Homo sapiens: one gene and its partners. The protein of the gene in region 1 binds, or shares a complex with, the protein of each later gene. Each region holds a gene or a part of one and is shown in the gene's direction. Other genes may lie near its edges. The genes, in order: PIGS, PIGT, ULBP2 and PIGU.

The links.
Region 2: the proteins of PIGS (region 1) and PIGT are in contact, whole or in part, in a cryo-EM structure (PDB 8IMY), measured with the Homo sapiens proteins. Residues at the interface, in NP_149975.1 of Homo sapiens: Thr9 (codon at 3,976), Glu12 (codon at 3,985), Val13 (codon at 4,262), Gly16 (codon at 4,271), Ala19 (codon at 4,280), Ala20 (codon at 4,283), Phe23 (codon at 4,292), Thr230, Pro238, Lys239, Tyr244, Ile247, Glu248, Val251, Gln256, Val270, Asp271, Ser272, Gln273, Ile274, Tyr276, Tyr277, Met279, Ser309, Arg310, Ser313, Ser314, Ala315, Ala316, Phe513; in NP_057021.2 of Homo sapiens: Pro26 (codon at 5,092), Arg27 (codon at 5,095), Val63 (codon at 5,203), Ser64 (codon at 5,379), His65 (codon at 5,382), Tyr66 (codon at 5,385), Arg67 (codon at 5,388), Lys71 (codon at 5,400), Gln75 (codon at 5,412), Lys79 (codon at 5,424), Tyr80 (codon at 5,427), Val133 (codon at 7,743), Gly136 (codon at 7,752), Lys191, Leu193, Pro194, Cys195, Ser196, Lys198, Ala199, Glu270, Pro271, Pro273, Leu274, Tyr526, Ile529, Cys530, Cys533, Val536, Ala537.
Region 3: the proteins of PIGS (region 1) and ULBP2 are in contact, whole or in part, in a cryo-EM structure (PDB 8IMY), measured with the Homo sapiens proteins. Residues at the interface, in NP_149975.1 of Homo sapiens: Pro514, Gln517, Phe519, Ala520, Ile523, Pro524, Leu527, Pro528, Val531, Pro532, Leu535; in NP_079493.1 of Homo sapiens: Arg223, Ala224, Thr225, Ile230, Leu234, Ile237, Leu238, Ile242.
Region 4: the proteins of PIGS (region 1) and PIGU are in contact, whole or in part, in a cryo-EM structure (PDB 8IMX), measured with the Homo sapiens proteins. Residues at the interface, in NP_149975.1 of Homo sapiens: Ala4 (codon at 3,961), Gly5 (codon at 3,964), Ala8 (codon at 3,973), Thr9 (codon at 3,976), Glu12 (codon at 3,985), Arg15 (codon at 4,268), Arg18 (codon at 4,277), Ala19 (codon at 4,280), Phe22 (codon at 4,289), Phe23 (codon at 4,292), Val26 (codon at 4,301), Leu30 (codon at 4,313), Leu34 (codon at 4,325), Trp35 (codon at 4,328), Thr38 (codon at 4,337), Thr39 (codon at 4,340), Leu510, Leu511, Phe513, Ile521, Tyr522, Leu525, Phe526; in NP_536724.1 of Homo sapiens: Gln118, Phe282, Glu283, His284, Phe285, Leu287, Phe288, Phe289, Cys291, Val292, Phe293, Ile295, Phe299, Tyr300, Ile302, Pro303, Ile306, Lys307, Lys309, Glu310, Thr417, His418.

What each region holds. Positions count from the first base shown.
Region 1 is NC_000017.11:28,568,520-28,575,447, reverse strand, and holds the start of PIGS (GPI-anchor transamidase component PIGS), read left to right. Parts: upstream 1-3,923; 5' UTR 3,924-3,951; coding exon 3,952-3,985; intron 3,986-4,259; coding exon 4,260-4,399; intron 4,400-4,484; coding exon 4,485-4,596; intron 4,597-6,928. Other genes in the region: ALDOC (fructose-bisphosphate aldolase C), read left to right, coding at 1-27, 114-325, 442-496, 592-752, 871-954, 1,207-1,381, 1,514-1,713, 1,827-1,922. UniProt on the Homo sapiens protein: Component of the glycosylphosphatidylinositol-anchor (GPI-anchor) transamidase (GPI-T) complex that catalyzes the formation of the linkage between a proprotein and a GPI-anchor and participates in GPI anchored protein biosynthesis.
Region 2 is NC_000020.11:45,411,141-45,419,157, forward strand, and holds the start of PIGT (GPI-anchor transamidase component PIGT isoform 1 precursor), read left to right. Parts: upstream 1-5,000; 5' UTR 5,001-5,016; coding exon 5,017-5,203; exon of another isoform or gene 5,204-5,376; coding exon 5,377-5,554; exon of another isoform or gene 5,555-5,677; intron 5,678-7,073; exon of another isoform or gene 7,074-7,243; intron 7,244-7,711; coding exon 7,712-7,839; intron 7,840-8,017. UniProt on the Homo sapiens protein: Component of the glycosylphosphatidylinositol-anchor (GPI-anchor) transamidase (GPI-T) complex that catalyzes the formation of the linkage between a proprotein and a GPI-anchor and participates in GPI anchored protein biosynthesis.
Region 3 is NC_000006.12:149,937,388-149,945,027, forward strand, and holds the start of ULBP2 (UL16-binding protein 2 preproprotein), read left to right. Parts: upstream 1-4,626; 5' UTR 4,627-4,685; coding exon 4,686-4,770; intron 4,771-7,640. UniProt on the Homo sapiens protein: Binds and activates the KLRK1/NKG2D receptor, mediating natural killer cell cytotoxicity.
Region 4 is NC_000020.11:34,674,078-34,680,992, reverse strand, and holds the start of PIGU (GPI-anchor transamidase component PIGU), read left to right. Parts: upstream 1-3,900; 5' UTR 3,901-3,907; coding exon 3,908-4,037; intron 4,038-6,915. UniProt on the Homo sapiens protein: Component of the glycosylphosphatidylinositol-anchor (GPI-anchor) transamidase (GPI-T) complex that catalyzes the formation of the linkage between a proprotein and a GPI-anchor and participates in GPI anchored protein biosynthesis.

The sequences.
Region 1 (6,928 bases):
GCATTCTGGCTGCGGATGAGTCTGTAGGTAAGTGGACATCTGTAGCCAGGTAGGGTACAGGTGGCTAGGGGACCCTGGGGATGTTCTCACTGCCTCTCTTTGTTTGCCCCTAGGCAGCATGGCCAAGCGGCTGAGCCAAATTGGGGTGGAAAACACAGAGGAGAACCGCCGGCTGTACCGCCAGGTCCTGTTCAGTGCTGATGACCGTGTGAAAAAGTGCATTGGAGGCGTCATTTTCTTCCATGAGACCCTCTACCAGAAAGATGATAATGGTGTTCCCTTCGTCCGAACCATCCAGGATAAGGGCATCGTCGTGGGCATCAAGGTGCAGCCCCTGGCCCTGCTCTGAATGGAAGCTGGGTGTGAAAATAAGCTTGTGTAGGAGGGGTAGCAAGGAGAATCCTGCCTGGATTCAACCCTCTGCTTGTACTTCCTCTACAGGTTGACAAGGGTGTGGTGCCTCTAGCTGGGACTGATGGAGAAACCACCACTCAAGGTATAGGATGGGTGGGCTTGAGGACCAAAGAGGTGTTAGATAGTTGATGCTGGTAAAAGAGGGGCAGAGTAATGAGGTTGGCACTGTGCTTGCAGGGCTGGATGGGCTCTCAGAACGCTGTGCCCAATACAAGAAGGATGGTGCTGACTTTGCCAAGTGGCGCTGTGTGCTGAAAATCAGTGAGCGTACACCCTCTGCACTTGCCATTCTGGAGAACGCCAACGTGCTGGCCCGTTATGCCAGTATCTGCCAGCAGGTGTGTGTGTTGGGAGGGTGGTGAGCTAGGTGCCCTGTATGCCTGGTGGGGAGAGAGTCACAAGGCTTTCTTCATCTCCCCTACTGCCCCTCCCAAGCATCTCTGCTCTTGCCTGCAGAATGGCATTGTGCCTATTGTGGAACCTGAAATATTGCCTGATGGAGACCACGACCTCAAACGTTGTCAGTATGTTACAGAGAAGGTGAGTCCACACCTGGGCACACAAACATACTGCAGGGACAGCTCGGCAGGAGTGTCTGTTCCCCAGAACCCCCAGCTTAGATCCAGGCACACTTTCCCCTAGCACTTTTTCACTTCATCCCGGCACAGGCCTGTGATCTGAGCCTGTACTGAGCCCTCACAGTCTGTGCCCATCTACCCCTACATAGGGAGCATCGAGCAGTAACCAGTGGGGGCCCAGACCCTTAGTAAACCTCCTCTAATCCCCACCCAGGTCTTGGCTGCTGTGTACAAGGCCCTGAGTGACCATCATGTATACCTGGAGGGGACCCTGCTCAAGCCCAACATGGTGACCCCGGGCCATGCCTGTCCCATCAAGTATACCCCAGAGGAGATTGCCATGGCAACTGTCACTGCCCTGCGTCGCACTGTGCCCCCAGCTGTCCCAGGTACTACCCAGCTCCCTAACCTGCTCCTATCCCTAAGGCCCATCTTCAGGTCCTTCTTGTGGCCTTCAGGGGTTCCCTATCCTGGAAAAATTGGGAGTGACCAGTCAGTTTGTCTTCTCTCCTCCACACTAGGAGTGACCTTCCTGTCTGGGGGTCAGAGCGAAGAAGAGGCATCATTCAACCTCAATGCCATCAACCGCTGCCCCCTTCCCCGACCCTGGGCGCTTACCTTCTCCTATGGGCGTGCCCTGCAAGCCTCTGCACTCAATGCCTGGCGAGGGCAACGGGACAATGCTGGGGCTGCCACTGAGGAGTTCATCAAGCGGGCTGAGGTTGGGAGCTACAGGTGGTGGTGGGTGGGGGCAGCACCCAGAGGCTATAGCCTGGGCAGGGCTTGGCACCTGTGGGCTGGCTCAGCCTGCTTACTCCACGCTCCCTTTTGCAGGTGAATGGGCTTGCAGCCCAGGGCAAGTATGAAGGCAGTGGAGAAGATGGTGGAGCAGCAGCACAGTCACTCTACATTGCCAACCATGCCTACTGAGTATCCACTCCATACCACAGCCCTTGGCCCAGCCATCTGCACCCACTTTTGCTTGTAGTCATGGCCAGGGCCAAATAGCTATGCAGAGCAGAGATGCCTTCACCTGGCACCAACTTGTCTTCCTTTCTCTCTTCCCTTCCCCTCTCTCATTGCTGCACCTGGGACCATAGGATGGGAGGATAGGGAGCCCCTCATGACTGAGGGCAGAAGAAATTGCTAGAAGTCAGAACAGGATGGCTGGGTCTCCCCCTACCTCTTCCAGCTCCCACAATTTTCCCATGATGAGGTAGCTTCTCCCTGGGCTCTCCTTCTTGCCTGCCCTGTCTCCTGGGATCAGAGGGTAGTACAGAAGCCCTGACTCATGCCTTGAGTACATACCATACAGCAAATAAATGGTAGCAAAACATTCTACTTTGCCTGTCTGTTTTACACATCAAATTCCCACCTCCCAGTTTCTGATCTCTGCTAATTCTATCTCTGGGCCCTCTGACTCTGGAGGTGGAGAGGGTGGGATTTGAGTCTTACTGGGCTTCAAGTTATGGAGGAAGGGCACATGCAGTCACCATCCCCAGCTCAGGCTCTTGCTCTCTTGATGTCCAAGTCTGGAGTGGGGCAATGAGGAAGACTGCAAGTCTTCTAGGGACTGCCACATCAGTGGCACTGGGCTGCAGCTACAGAAGTATGGAGTGAGGCCAAACTGGCAACTCCTGAAGGCAGATTTGTGCAAGGCTCAAAGCAGGGAGGCAGCAAGACAGGCTGGGATAAGAGTGGGTGGGAGTCTCTCCCATCTCGCAGTGTTAAGCCCAGCTGGGACCTGGTACCTTCCACTAGGGTGAGCCACACCAGTAAGGGCAAGCGAGCACCTGGACTCCCGCCCAAAGAGGAAAACCAAGGCTCTGCGGGCTGCCAGGGCTGAGCAGGGCATCTAGGAGGTTGCCAAGGGCTATGGCCCATTTTCATTTGGGGTAGAAGTGGGCACAAAGGGAGCCAATTGGAGGGTCTGGGTAAGGACAGCTCTGGTGAGGCCTGATGCTGAACTTTAACCACTGGGCTGGGTTGTGAGGTAGGCTGAGAACCTGGGTCTAAGCAGATAAAAAGAAGAGATAACAAGCTGCGTGTGTTCTGTGTCAACTGGGGAGGCTACAAATGCTCCACCCTGTGTGGCCTGACTTTATAATAACAAAAATAGCTTGCACATAGCACCAACCCTGTTCTAATCACTTTATATGTACTGACACATTTCATACAACTCTATAAAGTAGGTACTATTACTATCATCCCTATTTTAATAGAGAAAACAGGCACAGATAGGCACAGAACGATCTTCTCACGATCACTCACCTAATAAGTGATGAAGCCAGGATTTGAACCGCAGTGATCAGCATCTAGAGTCTGGGCTCATGACTTTTCAAGATTTTTAAGTGAAGTATTCTGAGTTTTCCAAGTTGGAAATGAATTAAAACGTATTTTAAAATAGCGAGAGAGCCAATTGTGCTAAAACATACTAGCTTGCTACCTCCGTGTTTGAGGCTTTGAGGAGAGGGCACCCTAAGAGGAGTTCTACGATAAGGATAATAAGACCGTGACAGTTGACGTTGAGGGCTTTCCGTGTGCCAGGCTCCTTACAAGAACGGCCTCATTTATGTAAATATCTCCATTTTCAGATGAGCCTCGGAGCTGCCTGTAGTTGCCCAGCTAGTATTTAAGGACTGCAGAGGTTGCGCTCTTGATTGCGGGGCTAGAAGTGTGTTCTACAGGGAAGCGGGGAACTTCGTTCCAGCAGCGCCGAAACCCGCACGGCCCCTAGGCTGTCCCTCCGCGCCCGGGTGACTTCCTTTCAGATCCCCAGCGAAGCTCCCAGCGGAGCCCTCCCACCCCTCGCCCGCTTGCTCCCGTCTGCGGGTCTGGAGTAGCGCTCGCGATTGGCCCCGATCACCGCCGCGGTCCTGCCCCCTCGTTGCAGAGATTCCGATTGGGTGAGGCTCACGAAGCTCTGCCCCCACGGTGGCCGGAGCAGCCGGAAGCTAGCATGGCGGCCGCCGGGGCTGCGGCTACACACCTAGGTGCGGTGGGCTTCGGGTGGGGGGCCTGCAGCTAGCTGATGGCAAGGGAGGAATAGCAGGGGTGGGGATTGTGGTGTGCGAGAGGTCCCGCGGACGGGGGGCTCGGGGGTCTCTTCAGACGAGATTCCCTTCAGGCTTGGGCCGGGTCCCTTCGCACGGAGATCCCAATGAACGCGGGCCCCTGGAGGCCGGTGGTTGGGGCTTCTCCGCGTCGGGGATGGGGCCGGTACCCTAGCCCGTTTCCAGCGCCTCAGTCGGTTCCCCATGCCCTCAGAGGTGGCCCGGGGCAAGCGCGCCGCCCTCTTCTTCGCTGCGGTGGCCATCGTGCTGGGGCTACCGCTCTGGTGGAAGACCACGGAGACCTACCGGGCCTCGTTGCCTTACTCCCAGATCAGTGGCCTGAATGCCCTTCAGGTGAGACTGCTGTGCGGGAGGGTCGGGGGACAGCCCCCCCGGCAAGGTGGAGACTCAGTGACGGCCCTGATGCTCCTTCCTGTAGCTCCGCCTCATGGTGCCTGTCACTGTCGTGTTTACGCGGGAGTCAGTGCCCCTGGACGACCAGGAGAAGCTGCCCTTCACCGTTGTGCATGAAAGAGAGATTCCTCTGAAATGTGAGTTACTGGGGATCAGGGCTGCTTTTCGCCTCTGAGCTCAGTTCAGAGCTGAGTTGGGTGGGAGGAGCGGGGGTGTACCATAAACGCAGTTAAAAACTTACTGTTGAAAGACCTCTGAATGAACAGTGTGTTTGGTCAGAAAAAAACTACTTTCAAATTCACAGTCACTAAATAGCAATTTTACTCGTAAGACAGGCTACCTAATCGGAAGCAGTTGATGCCCATCAGGGTATAGGGGAAGAGGTGGGATATAGTGGAAAGAACACAGAGTTTGAAATTAAATTGGATTTGCATATAGGCCCTATTTAGTTTGTTTGTTTATTTATTTATTATATTTTGAGACGGAGCTTCGCTCTGTCGCCCAGGCTGGAGTGCAGTGGCGCCATCTTGGCTCACTGCAACCTCTGCCTCCTGGGTTCAAGCGATTCTTCTGCACCAGCCACCCGAGTAGCTGGGATTACAGGCGCGCGACACTACGCCCAGCTAATTTTTGTATTTTTAGTAGAGACGGGGTTATGCCATGTTGGCCATGCTGCTCTCGAACTCCTGACTTCAGGTGATCCGCATGCCTCAGCCTCCCAAAGTGTTGGGATTACAGGCGTGAGCCACCGCGCCCAGCCCCTATTCAGTTTAACATTAAACACTTTACTGGGGTACTTTTTTTTAGGTACCAAGAATTTAGGAATGAATAAGAAATTGATAATGGTTTCAAGATGTTCATAGGTAGGGGAGAAAGATAAAATAAATTACAGTAGAAGTATACAAGAAACAGAGATTGCACTTAGTAAAGAGTATTAACCATCTGGGAGGAAAGAAAGGCAGAGAAAGTTTTGAGAGATGTAATTCTTAAGTCGGATTTTTAAAGGATGTGTAGGAATTCAGGTTAAGTGGGAAAAGGAGGGAGAGAATTTCAGGCAAAGTTAATAGCATGAGACAGTATAAGGATAGCTGATAGTTGTTGCTCGCTGTGTGCCAGAAACTAGGTGAAGCATTTTATATGTGTTGCCTCATTTAATCCTTTCTAATGATATGATCCCCATTTTATAAATGAAGAAACTGAGCCTTAGAGAATTTAACTTGTGCAAGGTCACACAGCTAGTAAGAGATGGAACTGGGATTTAAATCCAGGCCTGACTGATTCCAGTGTTCAAGCTTTTAACCAACAAACTATACTCCTGTGTGAAAGTGTGGCGGGGTGAATCAGCATATTGGGGGACCTATGAGCAGTTTTGCCTTACTGGAATGTGTAGTGAAAGACTGGGAATGACTGGAGATTTGGGCTGAGTCTAGAGCATGAGGCATCTGTGTGCCATTTACTTTTTTAGTTCTTTAGCCTTGGTGAAAACTTTTCTTTTCTTTTTTTTTTTTTTTTTTGAGAAAGGGTCTCTCTTTGTTGCCCAGGCTGGAGTATGGTGGCACGATCAGGGCCCACTGCAGCCTTGACCTATTGGGCTCAAGCGATCCTCCCATCTCAGCCCACCTGCCTTAATAGCTGGGACTACAGCCGCACACCATCACACCCAGCTGATTTGTTTTGGTATTTTTAGTAGAGATAGGGTTTCGCCATGTTGCCCAGGCTGGTCTCGAGCTCCTGGGCTCAAGTGATCAGCCTCCCAAAGTGCTGGGATTACAAGTGTGAGCCACCGCACCCGGCTGGTTAAAACATTTTTTTAAAAAAATGATATTTCGTATGGTTCAGCCTCTGTACACACACAAACTTCTGGTTTTCTTTCTTTTTTTTTTTTTTTTTTGAGATGGAGTTTCGCTCTTGTTGCCCAGGCTGGAGCGCAATGGCACGATTTTGGCTCACTGCAACCTCTGCCTCCTGGGTTCAAACGATTCTTCTGGCTCAGCCTCTGAAGTAGCTGGGATTACAGGCGCCTGCCACCACGCCCAGCTAATTTTTTGCATTTTTAGTAGATACGGGGTTTCACCATGTTGGCTAGGCTGGTCTCAAACTCCTGACCTCCAGTGATCCACCAGCCTCGGCCTCCCAAAGTGCTGGGATTACAGGCGTGAGCCACCATGCCCAGCCAAACTTCTTGTTTTCTAAACAAAAATTGGACTATCCCTCACAAGTTAGTTTGAAATTTGATTGTTTTCAGTTTATCATGGATTTCTTCATATTTGATAACACAGTGTTCAGTAATATGGGTATACTGTAAACGTATAGTATAGGCAACACGTATAAAGGGTGACCAAGAGTATAGAATCTGGGATCAGAGAGCTGGAATTCAAGCCTTATTCTGCCACTTATTTGTGTAAATTTGAGTAAGGTTGTTAACTTCTCTAAACCTTGGTTTCCTCATCTGTTAGACGGAAATAGTAA
Region 2 (8,017 bases), on another chromosome or scaffold:
TTCAGTTTGACAGCTAGTAAAAGATCATGACTTAAGATATAAAGTTATTTCCTCATATAGAAGTTAAAAAGTACAGGTCTACATGAAAGCTCCATCGTTACTCAGCACTGGGCTCCTTTTTTGCTCTTTTGCACATGGTTTGCATTCTTAGCAATATCTCACATCTAAGGTGGCTGTCAAAGCCCCAGCCATCATGACCTTGAGACTGGCAGAAAGCAGGAGAGGAAATGGGGGATGGGCAAAGAGGGCACAGCCAGTCTATTCCCATTTAGGAAGAAATTTTTGGAAGTTCTTTTTTTTTCCCCCAAGATGAAGTCACACTCTTTCGCCCAGGCTGGAGTGCAATGGCACGATCTCGGCACACTGCAACCTCCGCCTCCCAGGTTCAAGCAATTCTCACATCTCAGCCTCCCGAGTAGCTGGGACTACAGGCGCACACCACCATGCCAGGCTAATTTTTGTATTTTTAGTAGAGACGGGATTTCACCATATTGGTCAAGCTAGTCTCGAACTCCTGACCTCAGGTGATCCACCCACCTTGGCCTCCCGAAGTGCTGGAATTACAGGCGTGAGCCACTGCACCTGGCCAACCATCCTATAGTCTTCCAGCAGAGTCTCTCAAATCAGTGTCTCCAGATAGACGTGAACTCCTTGGCATGTCAAGTGAGGGGGTACTCCAGCCATTCTGGCTCCTTACATCCTTTTTGGAACAGAGGGCTAGTCACCCAGATGGGGAGTTTCAGAAAGGACCAGGTTTGAGAAGAAGGCCATAAATTTGGTTTGGGACATGTTGAGTTTGAGATGTCTTTGAGACATCCAAGAGGATATGTTGAGTAGGCCCTTGCACCCATGCATGTGGAATTTAGATAAGAGGATTGAGCTGGAAAAAGAAAACGATCAGTTCTCAGTGTATAGGTGGTAAGTGAAGCCATGGGTGCGAATGACAGGAGAGAATGCCCAGGGAGAGAATGCTGAATGAAAGAAGAGGTTATAGGACCCAGTCTTAAGGAACATCAACTCATTTCTCACATTCAAAAAAAAAAAAAAAAAATCAGTCCACCTCCCTTCATACATTGAACATCACCCATGGGATCAGTGACCTTCAGCCAAAATCCTAAAGCTTTTTGTGCCACCCAAGGTTGAGTGACAAGGCTGCAGTCTTCCTATTGTCCCATCCTGCTCTCACCCCTGCAGGAGGCCAGTGTAAGTATCTGTTCCTAAGTGTTTTTCCTAACACTAGTGAGAAACCTGTGGGAACTCCAGGGAAGTAGGAGTGTCCACCAGCCATTCCCTGTCTCTAGGAAGCTTGTGGAGTGAATACCTTCTGTGCAAAAGCCTCTAGGTCCAAGTTGAGATCATCCACTGAGCTGGGCCAGGGCCCAGTCCTCTATTAACTTTTGGGGTTTTTCTGGGTTGCTTATGACCTTGCTGCACATAGAAGACATAATCTCTGTCCTCTTGTGGCTTCTCTCCTTCCTTCCTTTAGAGTAGCAAGGTTCTATCTACCTCCTGTCTGACTGTGGCTGAGCCATCTCTTGGGCTGCGGCCCATGATCCCAATAGCTTTGCTGTGCAGGGCTTCTCAGCTCCCAGGATCACCCCCCTTCCTTCCATGGTGAACGATGAGAAGCTAGACTGGCTTGGTTGCCGTCAACATGTCAATAAATCTCTTAGTAGCCCAGGCACATGATGCGAAGATTGTGGGGAGCCTGCCTTGAGAGAGGGATTTACAGCCCTCTAGAGAAGTAGAATTGTTTCTGAGCCTATGGGGAGCCTTCAGTTTGGCTGCTATGAGCCCCAGCCCTGCCTGGAAAAGTCTAGTGTCAGCTGAGACCCCAGGACTACTTCCTAGTTGGGACAATAACCTTTTCTCCTGCCGAACCACAGGGGCTTGGCTGGCCTTCAGAACCATCATCTCCAGCTGACTGTTTTTTGTTTCTTTGTTTTTTTAAAAAAACTTATGGGGGTTTCAAACGTACAACAAATATAGAAAGAAAAATATCCCAGGTTCTCATCATACAGCTTAAAAAATCATCAAAATAGTACCAAGATTGTATCATCTACCCACCACATATTTTTAGTGGAAAGACATTTATGATAACTCTTGAAAGAAAGAGTAGACTATAAAACACCATATTCAATATGGTCACTTTTTAAAAAAATGATAATCTTCAGATTCACCATTTGATTATAGTGTTGCATTAAAGTTAAACCGTGGTTTATGGCAGCCCAGAGCCTAGCTGTCTGGTTTTTGAGGCCACACAGTGCCTTTGGAGGTGGGAGGAAGATCTGGAGCCAACTCTAAGTCAAGGAGCCCAGCTTTCAGTCTCCAAGCTACAGCGTGGCTTCTGATATTTGCACGGACTTGTCATAGGGTGGACATCCTGACACACTTCGGAAAGGAGGCACCACAGCTCAGAAAAAGTTTCCTTAGAAGGCTTACACTGTAGCAACCCCAGGAGTGCACAGAACTTGACACTGAACAGCATGGCAGAGTAGGGAAAATACAGAACTGTGCTATGATGTCATCTTGTTTGTTCATTCATTCACACATTACTGAGCACCTACTATGTGACAGTCACCTTGCTTAGGCAACAGAAATACTAAGGTGACCATGAGCTCTTCCAGGAGCAGACACAGACACAGGTAATGGAAACAATGTGATGAGAGATGTAGCAGAAGTACATGAAGCCTGTAGACCACTAGAGGAGGAGAAGGTAAGTCTTCACTAGAGGTGGCTGGGTCCTGAATGATGGAGATGGGCAATTTCAAAAGGAAAACAGAGAAGTACAAAATAGTCATAATGATGGCAGCTACCTTTAAAAAAGTATTATTTTGAGGTTTGATAGTGTAGACTATAGTCCTAGCTCCATCACTCATTGTAATCTTTATTATCTTAGTTTATGTACTTCTTAATAATAACACTCAAGCAACCCTATCACTTAGGCACTATTATCTACATTTACATATTAGTGCCTAGGTGACAGGGTTGAGTGTTACTATTAAGCACTTGCTACATTCCATATCCTACATGTACATAATTTCTCATCTTAACAACAACCTTGAAAGTAGGTTTCTTCATTATACAAATGAAGAAAAGTGACACTTGGGTTGATCATGCTCATATGGATTAAAGGCTGGCATAGGGATTTGGACTCCTGTCTTTCTGACATCTAAGCCCATGGCCTTCCTAATATTTCGTGTCTAATGGGGCAGGAACACTGAATGCAGGCAGAATGAAGGCATAATGAGATAAAGACATCTTTCTGACATTTCCTTTCTGGAAATGTCTGGTTGGTTGGCGCATATCTTGGCAGACCTGCCTGACACCAAATTGGCTCTTTCTAGAAGTGTGGTCATGAGTGTCACCAAGAGACTGTTCATGAAATCCTTCATGAATGTGTTTCCCATAGGGCAGGTGGAAAAACTAAAGCATGACTTTAACTTTGGAACTCCGAAAAAGTCAATAAAAAGACAAGCCAGTAAACAAAGGGGTGAGGGTGCAGAAGACTTTAACAGACCTTTCACAAAAAAATAAAAATTAAATTAAAAAATAAATGGCAAATAAGCACATGAACAGATGCTTAACATTTTTAGTTACCAGGGAAATGCAAATTAAAACCACAATGAGCAAACACTACATACATACCCAAGTGGTCAAAACTAAAAAGTACAAAAAATTAGAAACTTCAAATGCTGACCAGGATGTGGTACAATGGAGACTCATAGTTTATGGAAACATAAAATGATACATTTTGGAGAAAGGTCTGACAGTTTCTTATAAAATTAAACATACACCTGCTCTCTGACCCAGCAATTCCACTCTTAAATACCTGGCCAAAGGATATGAGAAATATACGTCTACAAAGGAGCTTGCACAGACAGCAGCCTTGTTAATAATAACCAAAAACTTTAAAAGTGCCCATCAAGAGTTGAATGGATAAATTAATAATACTACGCAGTAATAAAAAGAATTGTGGATACATGCAAGAACATGGATGATTCTCAAAAACATTCTTCCCATGAGAAAAAAAAAAGCCTTACACAGTATACATACTATATGATTTCATTTATATTTAGTTCTGGAACAGATTAATCTATTGTGGGAAAAAATCAGGGTACTAACTGCCTCTGGAAGGTGATAGAGGAGCAGGGATTGACTAGGAAAGGGTATTGCTAATTTTCTGGGGTTTTAGGAATGTTCTGTATCATGATAGGAGTTCGGGTTACATAGGTGTGTGCATTTGTCAAAACTCAGTGAATGTGTACTTTGGATTTGTGCATTTCACTGTATGTGAATTTTACATCAAAATGCAATCGAATACTGAACTCTAGTTAATTATATGCATGCTTAACTACTTAAAGGAAAGTGTACTAATGTCTGCAATTTACTTTGAAGTGCACCAAAACACAAGATGGAATGATGGATGTATAGACAAATATGTGGTAAAGTACAAGTATAGTATAATGTAAATAGTAGAATCTAGGTGGTGGAAAATAGGTTTATTGTAACAGGTGCTCATTCTTTCAATTTTGTTTGAACATTTTCGTAATAAAAGAACCACTTATTTGGGGGTTTTGCAGCAAATGGAGACACTAGAAGCTAAGAGGGGCAGGAGGTTCCTCTTACTTTGGGAAATGCAAATTAAAACCACAATGGTTTTCCCAAAAGTAATTGATCTTTTTCAGTCAATGTTTCCTCAACTATCAAATGGGTAAAATGGCAGTGAAGGAGCTTCATATTATTAAGCATTTCCTGGTGGGTGGAATACGCCATGAACTAGGTGCGGCCTCAAGCTGGTTACTCGCCCTGCCTACTCCCTCTCGTGTCCTCCCAGTACCCCCTTAGACCCACCAGCTCTGAGGGAATCTTCGCGACCTGCGCAGGCGGTCGCTCTGATAACCGCATCCCGGTTTCCGGGACGACAGCGGAAGTCACTTCTCACACGCCTTTCTTATTGGATACCGGCTTTTCATGGGGCCGAGCGCCGCTGGGTAGGCGGAAGTAGCCGCAGGCATGGCGGCGGCTATGCCGCTTGCTCTGCTCGTCCTGTTGCTCCTGGGGCCCGGCGGCTGGTGCCTTGCAGAACCCCCACGCGACAGCCTGCGGGAGGAACTTGTCATCACCCCGCTGCCTTCCGGGGACGTAGCCGCCACATTCCAGTTCCGCACGCGCTGGGATTCGGAGCTTCAGCGGGAAGGAGGTGAGGGCGCGAGATCTGACCAGGGAAAGATTTCCGTAGTGCCTGCTGGCTGGCCGGCCGTGGGATGAAGGCAAACTTTGGGGGCGGGGCCTAATTCCTGGGTAGAGTTCGGGATCCTGGGTGTGGACCCCGACGAGGTGGGGATCGTCACTCACCTGCTCCCGTTTCCCCAGTGTCCCATTACAGGCTCTTTCCCAAAGCCCTGGGGCAGCTGATCTCCAAGTATTCTCTACGGGAGCTGCACCTGTCATTCACACAAGGCTTTTGGAGGACCCGATACTGGGGGCCACCCTTCCTGCAGGCCCCATCAGGTGCAGAGCTGTGGGTCTGGTTCCAAGACACTGTCACTGAGTGAGTGCACACCTTGGGCCCTGTTGCAGGCCATGGAGGGAATGTGGCTGGGAGAGTGTTGTCATCCTGCCACTGCTCTTGGGGACAGCACTTCCAGTAGGCAGCGATTCCATGGGGGTAGAGCTGGCATTGGAAGTAAGAAATGTTACCACAGATGAATAAACTTCCCAATCCTAAAACTTTCAGACCTGAGGTAGCACATGCATATCCCTGGAGAGGCAAATAGCAAACAATTAATGCTTATTTGGAGGTAAGGCAGTAGAAAACTGGCAACTGGATAACCTTTTAAAAGGCATTCATTAATATTTTTTAAATGATAATAAATACCACGAAAGCCAACCATAACATATCTGTGGGTTACAACTGGCCAACAGGATGCTACATCACAGTGTTAGAGGAACTGCTTTTGTTTGGGAGGGGGCAGGTCTAGTTACTGTGCCTACTACAAACCGCTATTTCCCAGTGGCTGCTGTGGCTATCCTGTTTAGAATAGAACCTTTCTGTGCAGTGGTTGCAAACAGGTCTACATGGGCCACACAGGTAAGGAATGAATAAAGGTATTTTTAAAATTGACAAACACAGGAATGAGAAATATATCTCATTTTCCTCTTAATCCCACTATAAGAAATCAATAGTGCAAGTATGATATAACAAGTTTTAGGGCAATAAAAAGGAGCAGCAGGAATTGTGGCAGGCTAGAGAGTTTGTGTGACATTCTAACGAGGACAGCTCTGCCACTCAGCTTCTATGGATTGTTGCCATGTGGGAATAGAGGCCTAATGTGGTCAGAGTCAAATGTTTCTAAAAATTTTTTGTAGAAACAAGGTCTCACTATATTGCCCAGGCTGGTCTCGAACTCCTGGGTTCAAGCGATCCTCCTGCCTCAGCCTCCCAAAGTGTTGGGATTACAGGCAAGAGCCACCACACCTGGCCTCATTTTTCAAGAGATACCAGAAATCTGGAATTTAATGTGAAAATTGGCAAATTCAAATATCAGCAAGTAATTTAAAAATTTTTTGAGTGCTGTGCGGGTCAATGTTGTGCATACCAAATGAAGCATGTTTATGGTTTGAGTAGAGCTTTCCGGCTTCAAGTTTGCCATTTTTATTTGAGGCTTAAGGATTGGAGCAGTTGAAAAGCTCTGAACATAGAATTATCAAAAGCTCCTGGACAACACTAAGGAATAAGGAATAAGCAGTAACTCCCCAGCTTGCCAAGACTTTCTCTCTTGCCTCAACTCTGGCTCCCCTACCCTTTCCTGTCTACTCTGCTGTCACTGTCTTCCCTCAGCCCGTAATTGCCTGAAATGTGGAGCAAATGCTTAGAATTCTTTCTAGTGCTTATTAAGTTTTATGCTTTCTCTATTACTGAGAGCAAATCTCTTTTGATATTTCTCCAAGAAAAGAACATTAATTTAATTTGATGTTTTTATGAAATCCTAGAACAGTTGTTTTTCCCATGTTCAGTGAGCTTTTTTGGATATAAGACTTCTCACCATGATAGTAGAATCAGGACTTACCTTTATTCCCAGAGTATACACAGGGTAGTATGCATTGTTTTGCCCAGCCCAGCACATTCAAGGAAGATCAGTGAGCTCATTTCAGCTCTGATACATGAGGCGCTTTCCATGGTGTCAGGGGAAGTACATAGATGACCCAGACTGGTCCTTGTCCTCAAGTTGCTTACAGCCTAGTTAGGGAGAAAAGGTGGTCAGGACACGATGCTGCTGCCACCTAGCCATCTCCCAGGAGGGACCTAGTAAGATGCTTGGATGGTCAGAACCGTGACTGCACAGAGGAGACTGTGCTTAAGGAGGGCAGGAAAGGCTTCGTGGAGGGGAGGTAAGCACTGGAGCCGGATCATGAAGGTAGGCAGAAAGAAGTTAGCAAAGGCTTGCAAGGAAGGAAGAATCACCTGAGCAGAGACCCATGGGGATGCAGAGATGTCCAGAGGAGAGTGAGGAAGAAGGGGCTGAGTAGGATGAGACCCAGCAAGTGGGCTGGCTGGGGGCAGCAATGTTCCAGCTCCATCAACTGGCCCGTCTAATAGTTAAGAATACAGCCTCCTCCTATCATAGGTTTAGCAGCCAGCTGTGGACTTTGAAAGAGGGAGCAGAGGTAGCCCCAGGACAGTGAGTGGATTTGTGTCTCTATCCAGTGTGGATAAATCTTGGAAGGAGCTCAGTAATGTCCTCTCAGGGATCTTCTGCGCCTCTCTCAACTTCATCGACTCCACCAACACAGTCACTCCCACTGCCTCCTTCAAACCCCTGGGTCTGGCCAATGGTGAGATAACCCCTACAGCCCTTTCCTTCTTCCTCTTACCTCCTGCCCAAACCTTTGCCTCCTTTTCCCTCAGTTTCCTGCTTCCTCAGCCTGGGCTAGATCCTAAGTCCCCTGTGTGTGCAGGCCCCCAATACTGTGCCATCTCTGCATGCCTTTTCCCAAGGAGAGAAGGGAGTCC
Region 3 (7,640 bases), on another chromosome or scaffold:
TAAAGCAAAATAACCCAATTTAAATATATGCAAAGAATTCAAAAAGATGTTTCTCCAAAGTGAGACAGGTATAATACAGTGTGGTCACAAAAGAAGAAAAAAACTTTAGGCAGCAGTTTCAGGTGACTAGCAAAAGGAATCTGTTGAAATATCTGCAGAGGCTCTGGGCTGATAAGACCCTAAAAGACAGGGTATGGACCAGGCTGGCTAAGAATGAGTGGACCCAACATGGCCCTGGGTTTGGCCTCGGTTTCACCTAGGACCCTATTATACACTAATTGACATACTAAACGCACACACACCAGCGTCTTGGCAATTCAGAGAACACCAATATTTGGTGTAAAAATGGGTGGCACCACAGTTCTGAGCAGTCTCCACCTTCTTTTAGGAATTTTCATGAATATTCCACCCCTTGTTAAAGAAACCCAGAAAGGTGGCAGCCCTAAACCCCCTTGCACCTGCCTCTCTCTTGAGTTCCCCTGCATTCCCTTTACATGAGTGTGTACTTTCCCTTTTACAAAAAAATCTCCGTCCTTTCTCTATTTTCCTACTGGTCCTAGAATTCATTTCCCCAGGCGGTGTCAAGAGCCCGACACCGGCTGGGGTCGAGGTCTCATCAGAGTTTGGGGACCACCGGTTGCCCACTGGCATCGGAAGAAGAATGCAAATGGCAGTGAGCCCAGGAAAAGGTGCTCAGTGTCCACAGACCTCAGGGAAATGCCAACAGCACCCACAAGGGGACGCCTCACCCCGCTGGAATGGGTGACCCCAAACACTGTGAGGCTGGAGGGGGTGGGGCCTGCGTTCCTTACAAGGCAGAGAGCAGGAGACTGAGAGTTGGTGGAGTGTAGGGCTGTTCCTGTGTCATCCTCTTCCCATTTTCCTGGCGGAGGTTTCTCTTTGTTCTCTGGCCCTACCTGCTTCCTTCCTCTCCCTTTCTCTGGTTCTCCCTCCCGTCCTTCATTTCCAACCATCCCAAGGTTTTCTCTGCCTCAAGACGTCCATGCTCGGGGCCCCCAGCCCAGTGGAGAAACCAGGAGCCCTGGACCGCGAGCGGCGGGGTCGGGGAGGCGACAACGGGAAGCCCCTGTTGGATCCTGGGCACTCAGGACCTAGTGCGCCATGGGCGCCCTCCCGCAGCAGCCCCAGGGCAAGGAGGATGGGGGTCCTCGTGGGGGCCACACTGTCGGATCCCCAGGGATCCGAGCGGGACTGTGACGTCTCCACACTGAGCCGGTGGCAAAGTCGCCGCGAGGATGAAGGAGGAACCTCGTGCTCTTCACCCCACCAGGCCCCGCATTTCCTGTCTCCTGCCACGGTTCCTTGTCGCGACCGGCGAGTCCTCCCAGGTCTTCGAAAGGCCGTTTTGTCCGGAGGCTGTGGACCCGGAGGCCCGGGAGCATCGGCGGGCAGCGTGGCACCCACTCGGCGGTCTCAACCGGGCAGGACCCGGGTCCGGAGCTCGGGCGAAGCGGGCGTCCTGGGAGGAGCGCGCAGAACCCGGAGAGGACGCAGCAGGGTGAAAACTGAAACCGCATATGCGAACTGTCTCCGAAAGTCATCTGCGGTTGAAATCAGAAATCACCTATAATATCCCCTTTGTGACAACACCGTTGGGTAAATATCTAGAACCGGTGCCTCGTCACTGCAGCAGCCCCGCACGCAGCTGCCCGGGTTCCCCTCCCCGGACCCTAGTGGCCCCCAACAGATCAGGCGGGCCCACCGTGTGACCGTCCCTGGGACTCTCGGCCCCACTCTTACTTACTACTTCACCTCCACATTTTCACCTGTTTCAGAATCAAAACCCTGAAAAGTCATGTGTGAAAGGCTCCCCCGCCCCTGCCTGCGTCCACTCTCATTGGCCACACGCCAGGGAGGAAAGTTTATTTGATTCTTCTCATCTTTCCAGGGAGTCTTTATGCCGTTTCAAACGAATATAAATACATATTCTCAATTCAGACGCGGATATTTTTGACCCTTGATGAACCCTGTCACCCTGTCCTTCAGGAAGCCTGTACCAGTTTCCCCTCCCTCTACGGTGGATGTTTCACCATCCTCTGCCCAAGCTGGGTCATCACAATCACAGACAAGAGTGTCGCCAGCATTGCCATCCTATGACATGAGATGCTTTAAAGGTGCATTACTTCGCACAGCAATTCTGTGTCTGGAAATCTATTCTACACAATGAAATTGTGATTCATGCAAGCACAGTTTCTGCAGCATTTCGCTTCTCTAAAAGTCACTGGAGACCGTCTGGATCTTCAGACACAGACACTGGTTACTTTTGTTGTGATGCAGTCATTCTATGTAATGTGCAGAGATAAAAAGGAAAAAATCTGTATGTGCAGGTATTGCAAGATCTTCAAAGTGTGTTATTTTGAGATAGAATCTGTGTTCAGCAGAGTGCCTATGGGTTTATATTTGTTTTAAAAACCAGAATTGATACATAAACACGTATCTACTGTTAGTAAGGAAAACAGTATTTCCATAACTTATTGCCAGTCTCTTTATCCATTTTAGGAAAAATCGATATACTTGAAAAGCCACGGTGGCAGGAATTGGTCATCACCCACCAGGATTCTACACTGCCCTACAGGTGATCCCAACTGAGGTTGCCAGAGGAACAGGATGTGGAATGCAGTCGCGTTTCAGAGAGGAACCTAAAGTCAGAATGGACCAGGGGTCTTGCCCTGACCTCTGCCTCTTCACCCAACCCCCACCTGGTCAGGCAGTGACCCTGGAGGGGCTGGGATGATCCTGGGAGAGCAGTGAAATGGGGAGCCAATGGTGGGAGCATGGTGAACATGGAGAGCCCAGACCCCACACCATCTGGGGAGGAGCTCATGTGATGCTGGGAGCACTGGGAAGACAGGGAGCCTGGACACAGCACTCACTGCTCCTCCCATCTGGGACAGGATTGGGGTGGGTGATGAGAAAAGTTTCCTGAGTAACACAGTTCCCAATCCTGGCAGAATAACTCACCCCAGTTGCACTCACAGCCAAGACCCACTCAGCCCCTGGACCAGTCTAACACAGGGCTTGGTAAATCCAGGAGTGAATACTACTGAGGCATCTGCCAGGGCATAGGAAACAGTAACAAGAGGACGGCTCAGCTAGTGGCTCAGACTATCTTGCCCCACACTCTCCAATATTGAGTAGGGAGTAAGCCTTGAGCCCAGGAGGTTGAGGATTCAGTGAATTATGATCGTGCCACTGCACTCCAGACTGGTGACAGAGTAAGAGTCTGTCACACATGCTTACACACACAAATTAAATTGTGTGAGCAGTTGTCACACAGGGAGATCTGGATGCACTCACTGTGGACCCAGGTCTCAGCGAGCAGGAGGGTGTTCTGTATTGTGGGAACATGAGGGACACGCATGGGACCGGGCATTTGTGCCTAGCTTTGAAGGGTGGCTGGCCCTTTGCCCAGGGCGAAGAGGCCAGCAGAATGCACTAACAGTGGGGAACCACCAGGAACTTTCACTTGAACCTGCTCTGCTGAGCCCCCTGTGCCATCCGTGGACCTGGGCGAGGGAGGCTGCTGAACTGGGAGCTCAGGGCCCATCTCTCTGAGGAGCTTTCTAAATCAGCAAGTGTGTCACAGGTTGAGATTTTAGGAACGGGGTCCTCCATGTTGTCCTCGATTTTAATAAGTAGACTCTTTTGGCCAATCTGCATTGGGCAGAGCAGGAACAAGACATAATTTTTTAATATATATTTTTAAAGCTGTTTAATTTTGGTAAAAACATAGAAGATAAAATTTACCATCTTGACCAGTTGTTTAGTGCACAATATGTTGTTTTAAACCTCTGGAACCCTGCCTGCTGCTCCTGTAATAAAACCTAGCCCGGGCCAGGCGCGGTGGCTAACGCCTGTAATCCCAGCACTTTGGGAGGCCGAGACGGGTGGATCACCTAAGGTCATGAGTTTGAGACCAGCCTGGCCAACAAGATGAAACCCCATCTCTACCAAAAATACAAACAATTCGCCGGGCGTGGTGGAGGGCGTCTGTAATCCCAGCTACTCCGGAAGCTGAGGCCAGAGAATCCCTTGAACCCGGGAAGCGGCGATTGCGGTGAGCCGAGATCACGCCACTGCACTCCAGCCTGGGCAACAAGAGCGAAACTCCGTCTCTAAATAAATAAATAAATAAATAAATAAATAATAAAACCTAGCCCGGACTGTAATCACGTCCACTGGGAACTGGCGCAGTAGTGGAGGGGACGCGATCAGGCCCGTGGCTGCGCCCAGAGCATGATAAGCCAGGGACCTCGCGGCGCAGGCGGAGGGAGGGAGAGCGTCGCGGACCCAGGCGGGGACAGGGAGACGCCGCCGCCGCTGAATATTCCTCTGCAAGTTTCTTCACCTTCAATAAAAAAATGTTGTGATGATTAAATGAGTCTGTCGTGGAAGGAACCGTGTCTTGGCAGGAGCCGGGCGGACACCCAGACACCAACCCGAAGGGGGTTGGGACAAAGGGGAGGGACGCCCGGGAAGGGGAGGGACACCGTCAGGGCAGCCAATCATATTTCTAGCCGCGTGACGCTATGACCCGCTTGACGCTATGACAGCGGGAAACGGGGGGCGCGCCCGTACATAGGGAGGCTTTAAAACCTTGAGGTGATTCATCTTCCAGGCTCTCCTTCCATCAAGTCTCTCATCCCTAGCGCTCTGGGTCCTTAATGGCAGCAGCCGCCGCTACCAAGATCCTTCTGTGCCTCCCGCTTCTGCTCCTGCTGTCCGGCTGGTCCCGGGCTGGGCGAGCCGGTGAGTTCGTGGATGGAGCCTAAGCCGGGCGGGGACCAAGCCTGGAGGGCTGTGAACTGCCGCGGGTTTCAGAGGAGGGGAGGCTTCTAGAAGGACGGGGGAGATCTCCCCTAACTGCGCCCCCGTTCAGTTCCGGTCGGCGGCTCCTTCCTGCTGGGTGCAGTCCCCGAGGCTGCTTCTTGCCCGGGAAGAGGCGAAAAGGAGCGGGGTGGAAAGGAGGCTGGCAGGAGGGTGGAGGGGCCGGAGGGCTGCAGAGAGCGAGGTGGGGCGGGGATCCCTGGTGCAGCCTGGCAGTCCCACCCGCCCTCGGGAAGGAAAAACCAGAGCCCCCGGAACCGGAGCTGGGGACAGGACAGGGGTGAAGCGGGATTCCACAGGGACGCGATCACAGACACCCCCACCAGCCACAGGCCTGCTCTGCTCTCACCCGCTCTCCACCACACAAACCCTCCAGCGCCCCCAGGGCTGCGTGCCCTTGAATTTTTCCCTGCACTTTCCTGTAGACACTCACCTGCACCCAGGGGCTCAGCAGACAACCGCCACCCCTCCCCTCACCATCCACTGCCACCACCCAGGTCACGTCCTCTTACTGCCCACCTCAGCCCAGCTGGTCACCCCAGAGGTCTCCCCATCCATGAAGGGGACCTCACCACCTCCTACACCACGTCGCACCTTCTGCCTCTTGCCTGAGGACACACCCCAGCAAACACACCCCAAGCTCCCCTCAGAACCTGTGCAGGGGGGATGGGAAGCACCATTTCCTCCAGGATGACCCTGGGAACTCTGGTGAGTAGAGGCACCCACTTCTGCCCTTGGGGCCCAGACCGCCTGTTCTTCCTACGGGGGTGTCAGCGTCATAGAGAATAGTCACTGTGTAGACAGGGGTCAGCAAACTCTTTCTAGAAAGGGAGGAAGGATGCCCTGTGATCTTTGCAGGCCGTGGGTTCTCCGTCTCAGTGTCCAGTCCTGTCCCTTTGTAGAGCAACAGCAGGCAATGGCAACCTTCAAATAGGGGGGACCAGATTTGGACCCTGTCCTAGGTTGCTGATCCCAGATCAGGGGATTACAATGTCCCAGTGAATAGTGCCCCATCCCCTATGGTGTCATCTCCAAGTGATGTCTCTGATGTCAGTTGGAGAGTAGAAGGTGGTCCTACCTTGTCTGTGGCTTCTGGGTGGTGTGGATGTGATGGGAGTGGGGGTCCCATAGTTGGGGGCTTATTCTCCCCTCCTTTGTGCTGAGTGGCATCCACGGGGACCATCAGGTACCCTCCCTGAAGCCTCAGGTGTGAGCTGAGGGTGAGGGGGTGCAGCCACGTGGTGTCCTGGGGATCGGGTCCAACTGCTTGTGCAGCTTCTTGGTTCCCGGTGGCCCTGCTCCTGCCCATCCCAGAAGAACCACCTGCGTCTTCTCACTGCTGGGCCTAACTTCCTAATGACCTAGAGGGTGAGGAGCCCACCAGTAATGGGCAGCTCTGAGGCCTTCAGCAATAGGCATCCCTAAGCTTCATTCCATTCTGGTGCCTTGTCATGGGCCTTCTTTATATGCATGGCAAAAGGCCCCATCTCTGCCAAGGTGCAGTACTCTACAGGAGCCACTGCTTAATGTTGCGATTTCCTTGCTGTGAGTGGCATTGCCTTGTCTCTGAATATTCACATGGAATCTCTGTTGTGATTCTCCAATTAGACATTGTGACCACATGTACCTCTAGGGTCTTAGGGGGTCTTGGGTCATTGGGCACTTAAGGTAGGTCCAGCCTCGCTCATCATGCATGGATTGTCTATGGCTGCTTTTGAACTTCAACAGCAGAGTTGAGTAGTTACAATGGAGAATATATTCCCTGCACACCTTTACATGTTTACAAAATTGCCCTTCACAGCAAACTCTACTGGCCATAAATATCTTTGGAGAAGGCCACAAGGACTCACTGTCCTGGCTGCAGGGTTAAAGGGTCCTTCCTCACTAGAAACTGGTGTCTTCTTCTAGTCATGGGTTCAGGGTCTGAGAAGTGGCTTCATTCTGCAAATTAGGCAAAGCAGCCTCGTTCTTGATGGACTGGCTACTTTCAGCCTCCTGATTTGGTTTATCTCTGTTTCTTGTAATTATTTAAATCCAGCAGTATCTGGGGTGGGTTTGCATCTCTTTTGGACCTTGGACCCCTTTGTTCTATGAGCCATGGGCATAACTTTGTATAACTGAGGTCCCCAGCTGGCATTGTGACTTCTCTAATCATTTCCATCATTGCACCCTCCTTGCTCCTGACAGTTGACAGCCTCCACCTGGAATTTGGAATTTCAGAATTGTTCATCCCATTACTCTGGGAGCAGATTTCAGGAACAGCATCTCCTACCCCCAACCCTGGCCTTCAGCAATAGGCATCCCTAAGCTTCATTCCATTCTGGTGCCTTCTCATGGGGCCTTCTTTATATGCTGGGTAAACAGGAGTCCTCCAGGTTTCCCATAAGCACAGTGGATGGACATTGTTCTGGATTTTCACACTTAGACCCCTCTGGCATGGGCACTTCTCTGAGCCTGTGATCTCTCCCTCCACTACCTGCCTTAGACTTTCAGATTTTCCATTTCTTGCTGTGTGGACCATCTCTTTGTCCAAGGTTTCAGGAAGGCCTCCTCATAGCAGATGCATGCCATCACCAGGGGCTTTGCCAACATGTTAAATCCTGTGGCCATGATAATTAACTCTTCTTTATCCAACGGGGTTCCATCCTCACTCTGTTCAACCAGCACCAGCATCCACAGGGGTGGACCCACACCCTCTCCCACCTCCCGCAGTCCACGTGGGCTACTGCTGAAGATCCTCTGCCATCCAGGCCCTTCCTCCTCTCTTGCTAGAGAGGCCTGGCACCTTTCTA
Region 4 (6,915 bases), on another chromosome or scaffold:
TGGGTCACATCTGTCTACAATGGCTAATCACTGTTTTTCCCAAAGACAATCCTCACCCTAAGATAAATTTTTAAGTCATCTGTTAGAATGATGTAAATAATATAACAGCTAAGTAACCTTTACTGAGCACTGGGTATGTGCTAAGCATTTTACATTGTATAACCTTGCTCAATATTCACTATGAGGTTAGTGTTACAATTACTTCCACTTTTTATGATGTAATACACTTCACTGTAAGATGATGCAACACATATATCTCCTTTTATGTAAAAGGGGATACAAAAACCCACATCTTTAAGAAGGAAGGCTGTGCAGACTAAATAAGCTCATGTGTGTTAAGCATATGGTACACTACTTGGCACACAGCAGGGGCTCAAAGGATGAGTGCCCCTCTAATTTCTTCATGATCCCCTCCCCCAAAGGAGACCCTACCCCTTTCACTGGTCCAGAAAGCTATCAGCCCCAGGGTTTATTTTTGCATTCTTTTAGAATCCCACTCCCATTTTTTTCTTTTTCTTTTTTCTTTTTTTTTGAGACAGTCTTGCTCTGTCGCCCAGGCTGGAGTGCAGTGGTGCAATCTCGGCTCACTGCAACCGCCGATCCTCGGGTCGAAGTGACTCTCCTGTCTCAGCCTCCCAAGTAGCTGGGATTACAGGTGCCCGCCACCTTGCCCAGCTAAATTTTTTGTATTTTTAGTAGAGACGGGGTTTCACCATGTTGGCCAGGCTGGTCTCGAACTCCTGACCTCAAGTGATCTGCCTGCCTCGGCCTCCCAAAGTGCTGAGATTACAGGTGTGAGCCACTGCGCCCGGCCATTTTTTTTCTTTTTTCTTTTTTTTTTTTTTTGAGGCAAGGTCTTGCTTTGTCGTACAGGCCTGAGAGCAGCGGCGTGATCTTGGCTCGCTGCAGCTTCAACCTCCCAGGCTCAAGTGATTCTCCCACCTCAGCCTTCCCAGTAGCTGAGACTACAGGCATGCGCCACCATGCCTGGGTAATTCTTATGTTTTCTGTAGAGACAGGTTTCACCATGTTGCCCAGGCTGGTCTCAAACTCCTGGGCTCAAGCAATCCTCCCGCCATGGCCTCTCAAAGTGCTGAGATTACAGGCGTGAGCCACTGCGCCTGGCCCACTCCCCCTTTTCTTTCTCTCATTAAGGTTTGTGATTTTTTTTTTTTTTTTTTGAGACGGAGTCTTGCTCTGTCGCCCAGGCTGGAGTTATGGTTTGTGATTTTACTTATGTTATTCTTTAACTATTTTATCTCTTCAACTGCTTTCCAAGTTACATAAGGGCAAAGGCAGATGGTGCCATTTTGTCACTGCAATATTCCCCAACACCCAATAGAGGGCTTGTGGGAATATAGAGATGTTTGAAAAATGTACACCTGTTCACATCATTTCTGGTTTAAAATTCTCCAATGGCATATGGATTGCACTTTGAATAAAGCCCAAATTCTCAAGCATGGCCAATAGGTCCCTACCTGATTGCCCCCCGTCTCTCCATCCACAGCTTCTTCTATTCTCTCCACTTGAGCCATACTTGTTTTCTTTCTGATCCTCAAACATACCTTGCTCTTTCCCCACTCAGTCCGTTCCTTCTGCTTGGAGGCTCTGATTAATTTCTCATCCTTTAGGTCTCAGCTCAAATATCACCTCTTTCTAGAGTCTTCCCTGATCACCTTGTCTAGTGTTACCACCCTTATTATTACACCAGCAGTTATTCTCAGTCATACACTGTTTCGTTTTCTTTCTTCTCTCTCTTTCTTTTTTTGAGACAGAGTCTGGCTCTGTCGCCCAGGCTGGAGTGCAATGGCGCTATCTTGGCTCGCTGTAGCCTCCGCCTCCCAGGTTCAAGTGATTCTCTTGCCTCAGCCTCCTGAGTAGCTGGGACTGCAGGCACAGGCCACCATGCCTGGCTAATTTTTGTAATTTTAATAGAGACGAGGTTTCACCATGTTGGGCAGGCTGGTTTCAAACTCCTGACCTCAAGTGATCCGGCTGCTTCGGCCTTCCAAAGTGCTGGGATTACAGGCGTGAGCCACTGCGTCCAGCCTGTTTCCTTTTCTTCACAAATATGAAATTTCCTTGCACATTTAATATTATTATTGCTAATATTTAAGCACTTACTATACATTAATTAATGAAGTGTGCTGCTTAATGCTTATCAATGGGCTCTCCAAACCCCAAACCCCTGATTTGTAGTGTTTGCTGATTCCTGTGGTGTAAACACTCGCATTGGGAGGGATTTTCAATCTATCAACCTGAGGAAACTGAACACCACCATTTGGGAAGAGAAAGAGATAGTATTTGCTGTACTGATACAGCGGTGGTAAATAATCTCAAAAGCACATATAAAAAAAAGTGTAGTAAAATAATTAGAAAGTGACGTGTTGAATATGTATTCCGTTGTTTTCAATATAAGTTATTTAACTGTAGGTTTATATGTCTTAATTTTCAAAAATGCCTGTGTTTAAAAGCGACTGGCAAAATTTCTAAGCCTTCCGGCCAGGCACGATGACACAAGCCTGTAATCCCAGCACTTTGGGAGGCCGAGGCAGGCAGGTGGATCGCCTGAAGTCTGGAGTTCGAGACCAGCCTGACCAACATAGAGAAACCCTGTCTCTACTAAAATTACAAAAAATTAGCCGGGCGTGATGGCGCATGCATGTAATCCCAGCTACTCGGGAGGCTGAGGCAGGAGAATCGCTTGAACCTGGGAGTCGGAGGTTGCAGTGAGCTGAGATCGCGCCATTGCACTCCAACCCGGGCAATAAGAGCGAAACTCCGTTTCCAAAACAAAAAAAAAATTTCTAAGCCTTCCTCAACTGTCCCTAGTTAGCCTATAATCAGCACATTTTTCAGCACACAAGGGTTAAGCGACTTGTTGAACTAGCTAATAAATCAGTCTACTACTCCAAAACGCATCTGTAGAACCTAACATAGTGCCTGGAAAATAGTTGGCGTTTAACAAACAACTGCCAGAATAAATTTTTTAAAAAATACACATTTAACACTCTTTAAAAACATAAAAGGTACCAGCCTGGGCAACATGGCGAAACCCCGTCTCTACTAAAAGTACAAAAACTTAGCCGGGTGTGGTGGCGCGCACCTGTGGTCCCAGCTACTCTGGAGCCCGGGAGGTCCAGGCTGCAGTGAGCTGAGATTGCGCCACTGCACTCCAGCCTGGGCGACGGCACTGAGACCCTGTCTCAAAAACAAAAAACATAAACATTTTGGGCAGGGTGCGGTGGCTCACGCCTGTAATCCCAGCATTTTGGGAAGCCGAGGCGGGCGGATCACCTGAGGTCAGGAGTTCGAGACCAACCTGGCCAACATGGTGAAACCCCATCTCTACTAAAAATACAAAAAAAAAAAAAAAAAAAAAATAGCCGCGCGTGGTGGTGGGCGCCTGTCATCCCAGCTACCCAGGAGGCGGAAGTTGCAGTGAGCCAAGATCGCGCCACTGCACTCCAGCCGGACGACAGAGCGAGACTCCGTCTCAAAAAAAATAAAAATAAAAATAAAAATAAACATTTTGGCATTGAAAACATACACGCAAGAGTGAATTTAACATCTGTTTAAAAGTCTCTCACAATCCCAGGAAGGCGACTACTTCCGCTTCTACTTTCAGCAGCGTTTCAGCCCCGCTATAGCGGCGCGGCTTCACAAAACACCTGCGATCGTAGAAGGTTTCGCCCCACCTTCTGCATACGCAGCTTGAGGCGCCCGCTTTCCGTCGCTCCGGCCCGCCTCGCCGCAAGGCTTTCTGGGAGCCGTAGTCCCCACGTCTGGCCTCTCCGGCGCCAGCGGCAGCGCGCGCCCACCCGCGGAACTACAGAGCGTGGCGCACAGCGCGCGAGGCTCCTCCGCCTCGCCTTCCCTCCCCGCCCGCGCGCCCGCCCCAGTTATCATGGCGGCTCCCTTGGTCCTGGTGCTGGTGGTGGCTGTGACAGTGCGGGCGGCCTTGTTCCGCTCCAGTCTGGCCGAGTTCATTTCCGAGCGGGTGGAGGTGGTGTCCCCACTGAGCTCTTGGAAGAGAGGTGAGGCCACTGGCTCGAGCAGACTGTCAGGCCCCACCTGCCCTCCCGCGGCCTCTGTGAATGGGAGGCGGGGGCAGTGACCGCCAGCGCGCGGTTCCTAGAGAACTAACTGACTGTCTCGTGGGGTTCTTGGAGAGGGCGGGGCCTGAGGGCGGGGCTGGTGAGGGGAGGGGGCGTGGGGACCGGGGCGTGGGGACAGTGTCGTGAGGTTTGGGCCCTGGGGGCCGGACCACCTAGTGGTGGGGATCTGAGGGGGCGTGTCCCATTCAGTGTCCTGAGCCGAGGAGTGTGGTCTGTGGGAAGGGTTGGAATAAGAGGAGGAGGTGCTTGTGGAGCGCGGCTTGCAGAGGAGTTTGGGATTTGGGGCGGGATCGCCAGGGGTGCTCCCTGGGATAAAAGGTTATGTGTGAGGGGGTCCGGGATGAGGGGACCAATTTTGCTTAAGCGAGGAGAGTGTGCGTGTGCTTTAGACGTCTCTTCTCAGTCTGGGACTTGCAGGGCAATTTTTGTTACTGTTCCTTACTAAGTTCTTCACCGAACATTGTTTTATACTAACGCCTACAGCGAGAAAGCGAAGTTGGCCTGAAGTAGCTGCACAGGCTAGTGAGGGAGACAAATCGTTATAATAATTCATGAAAAGTATACTTTATGTGTCCACCCAGTTCCTTCCTTAGTATTCTGACCCTGAATAAACTATCCCCTACCTTTCCAGTTTTCCAGAATGTGGGATTTGAGCTGACTCTTGAAGGATGTAGGGTTTTGAAAGGGAGATTAGAGAAAAGGAGAGTTCCAGGTAGCAGAAAGTAAATAGGATGAAGAAACGTTCAAGGATGTGAAATGTCCAAAGCAGGGGAGTAATGGGGTGGAAGCTAGGTTTAGGCCAGAGTTTGATGATTAAAAAAAAACAAACAACTTTTTTTTTTTTTTTTTTACTGAAGTACAGTATACATACAATGCATATTAAGTAAGTGTAGAGTTCAATGAATTTTTAAAAACTGTATTCACTCATGTAGCCAGCACCTAGTTCAAGAAACAGTATCAGCACCCCAGAAGTCCCCTTTGTGTCCTTTAAATGCTAAAGTTTTTTTGTTTTTGTTTTTGTTTTTTGTTTAGAGACAGGGTCTTTCTATGTTGCCCAGGCTGGTCTGGAACTCCTGGACTCAAGCAGTCTCACTTGGCCTCCCAAAGTGCTGGGATTTCAGGCGTGAGCCATGGCACCTGGCCAAGGCTAACGTTTTGATGTTATCCCATAGAATGTTGGTATGGGGAACGGCATAATGAATGGGTGTTTTATGAATAGAGTTAAGGTTTCTAAAAATGGTAACATATACCTTTTCTCATTTAGTCCTCACATTTATTTCTATGTGATAGATGGTGTTATTTTCCCCCTTTTACAGATGAGGGAACTGAAATTTAGAGAAGTTAATTTGCCCAGGTTTCCTAGTTGGGGAATGGTAATAAAGATAGTAATAATTCATGTCTGAGATTGTAAGAGCTTGGATTTGTTACCTCTGCGTATTATTTTTCTGTTGAAATGAATCGAAGCCATTTGGTTCCTGTTTTCTTCTGGATAACTGAAAACCTGAGGCAGTATTAGGCCCTTCTTCCTCTACACCCTACTAAGAGCATTTCTTATCTCATAATTACCTGTTTATATCCGGTTTTTCCACATTTTCTCTCTCTCTCTTTTTTTTTTTTTTTTTTTTTGAGATGGAGTTTCACTCTCATTGCCCTAGCTGGAGTGCAATGGTGCGATCTCGGCTCACCATAACCTCCGCCCCCTGGGTTCAAGCAATTCTTCTGCCTCAGCCTCCTGGGCAGCTGGGATTACAGGCATGCACCACCATGCCTGGCTAATTTTGTATTTTTAGTAGAGACAGGGGTTCTCCATGTTGGTCAGGCTGGTCTTGAACTCCCGACCTCAGGTGATCTGCCTTCCTCGGCCTCCCAAAGTGCTGGGATTACAGGTGTGAGCCGCCATGCCTGGCCTCTTTTTTTTTTTTTTTTTCTTCAAGAGACAGGGTCTCACTCTGACACTCAGGCTGGAGTGCAGTGATAATGGGTCACTGCAGCCTTGACCTCTCGGGCTCAGGACATCCTCCCTCCTCAGCCTCCCAAGTAGTTGGTAGCTGGGACTACAGGCATGTACCACCAACCCTACTTGTTATTATTATTATTTTTTTGTATTTTTTGTAGAGATGGGGTTTCACCATGTTGCTTAGGCTGGTCTCAAACTCCTGGGCTCAAGTGATCCGCCCATCTGGGTCTCTCAAAGTGCTGGGATTACAGGCATAAGCTACCACACCTGGCCTTTTCCACTATATTATGAGCTCCTTGAAGGATTCTGTTTTATTCATTCCTGAATTCTTTTATGTCTGGCATACAGTAGGTGTGTAGTTACTGTTGAATAAATGTGGAAGAGAAGAAAGCATAGGATCTGGTTACTTACAGGAGGTTACTTACAGGATGGACAGGTGAAGGATCCAAAGATGAGACAGTGTTGTTTGGTAATTAAGAGTGCAGGGTCTGGAATCTCAGAAAAGGTTTGACTCTTTCTCTAGTTCTGCAACTTATAAGCTGTATGAATTCTTTTTTTTTTTGAGACAGAATTTTGCTCTTGTTGCCCAGGCTGGAGTGCAATGGCGCGATCTCGGCTCACTGCAACCTCCGCCTCCCAGGTTCAGGCTGTTATCTCGTCTCAGCCTCTTGGGTAGCTGGGATTACAGGTGCCCGCCACCATGCCCAGCTAATTTTTGTATTTTTAGTAGAGATAAGTTTCACCATGTTGGCTAGTCTGGTCTTAAACTCCTGACCTCAGGTGAGCCGCCCGCCTTGACCTGTGAAAGTGCTGGGATTACAGGCATGAGCCACTGCGCCA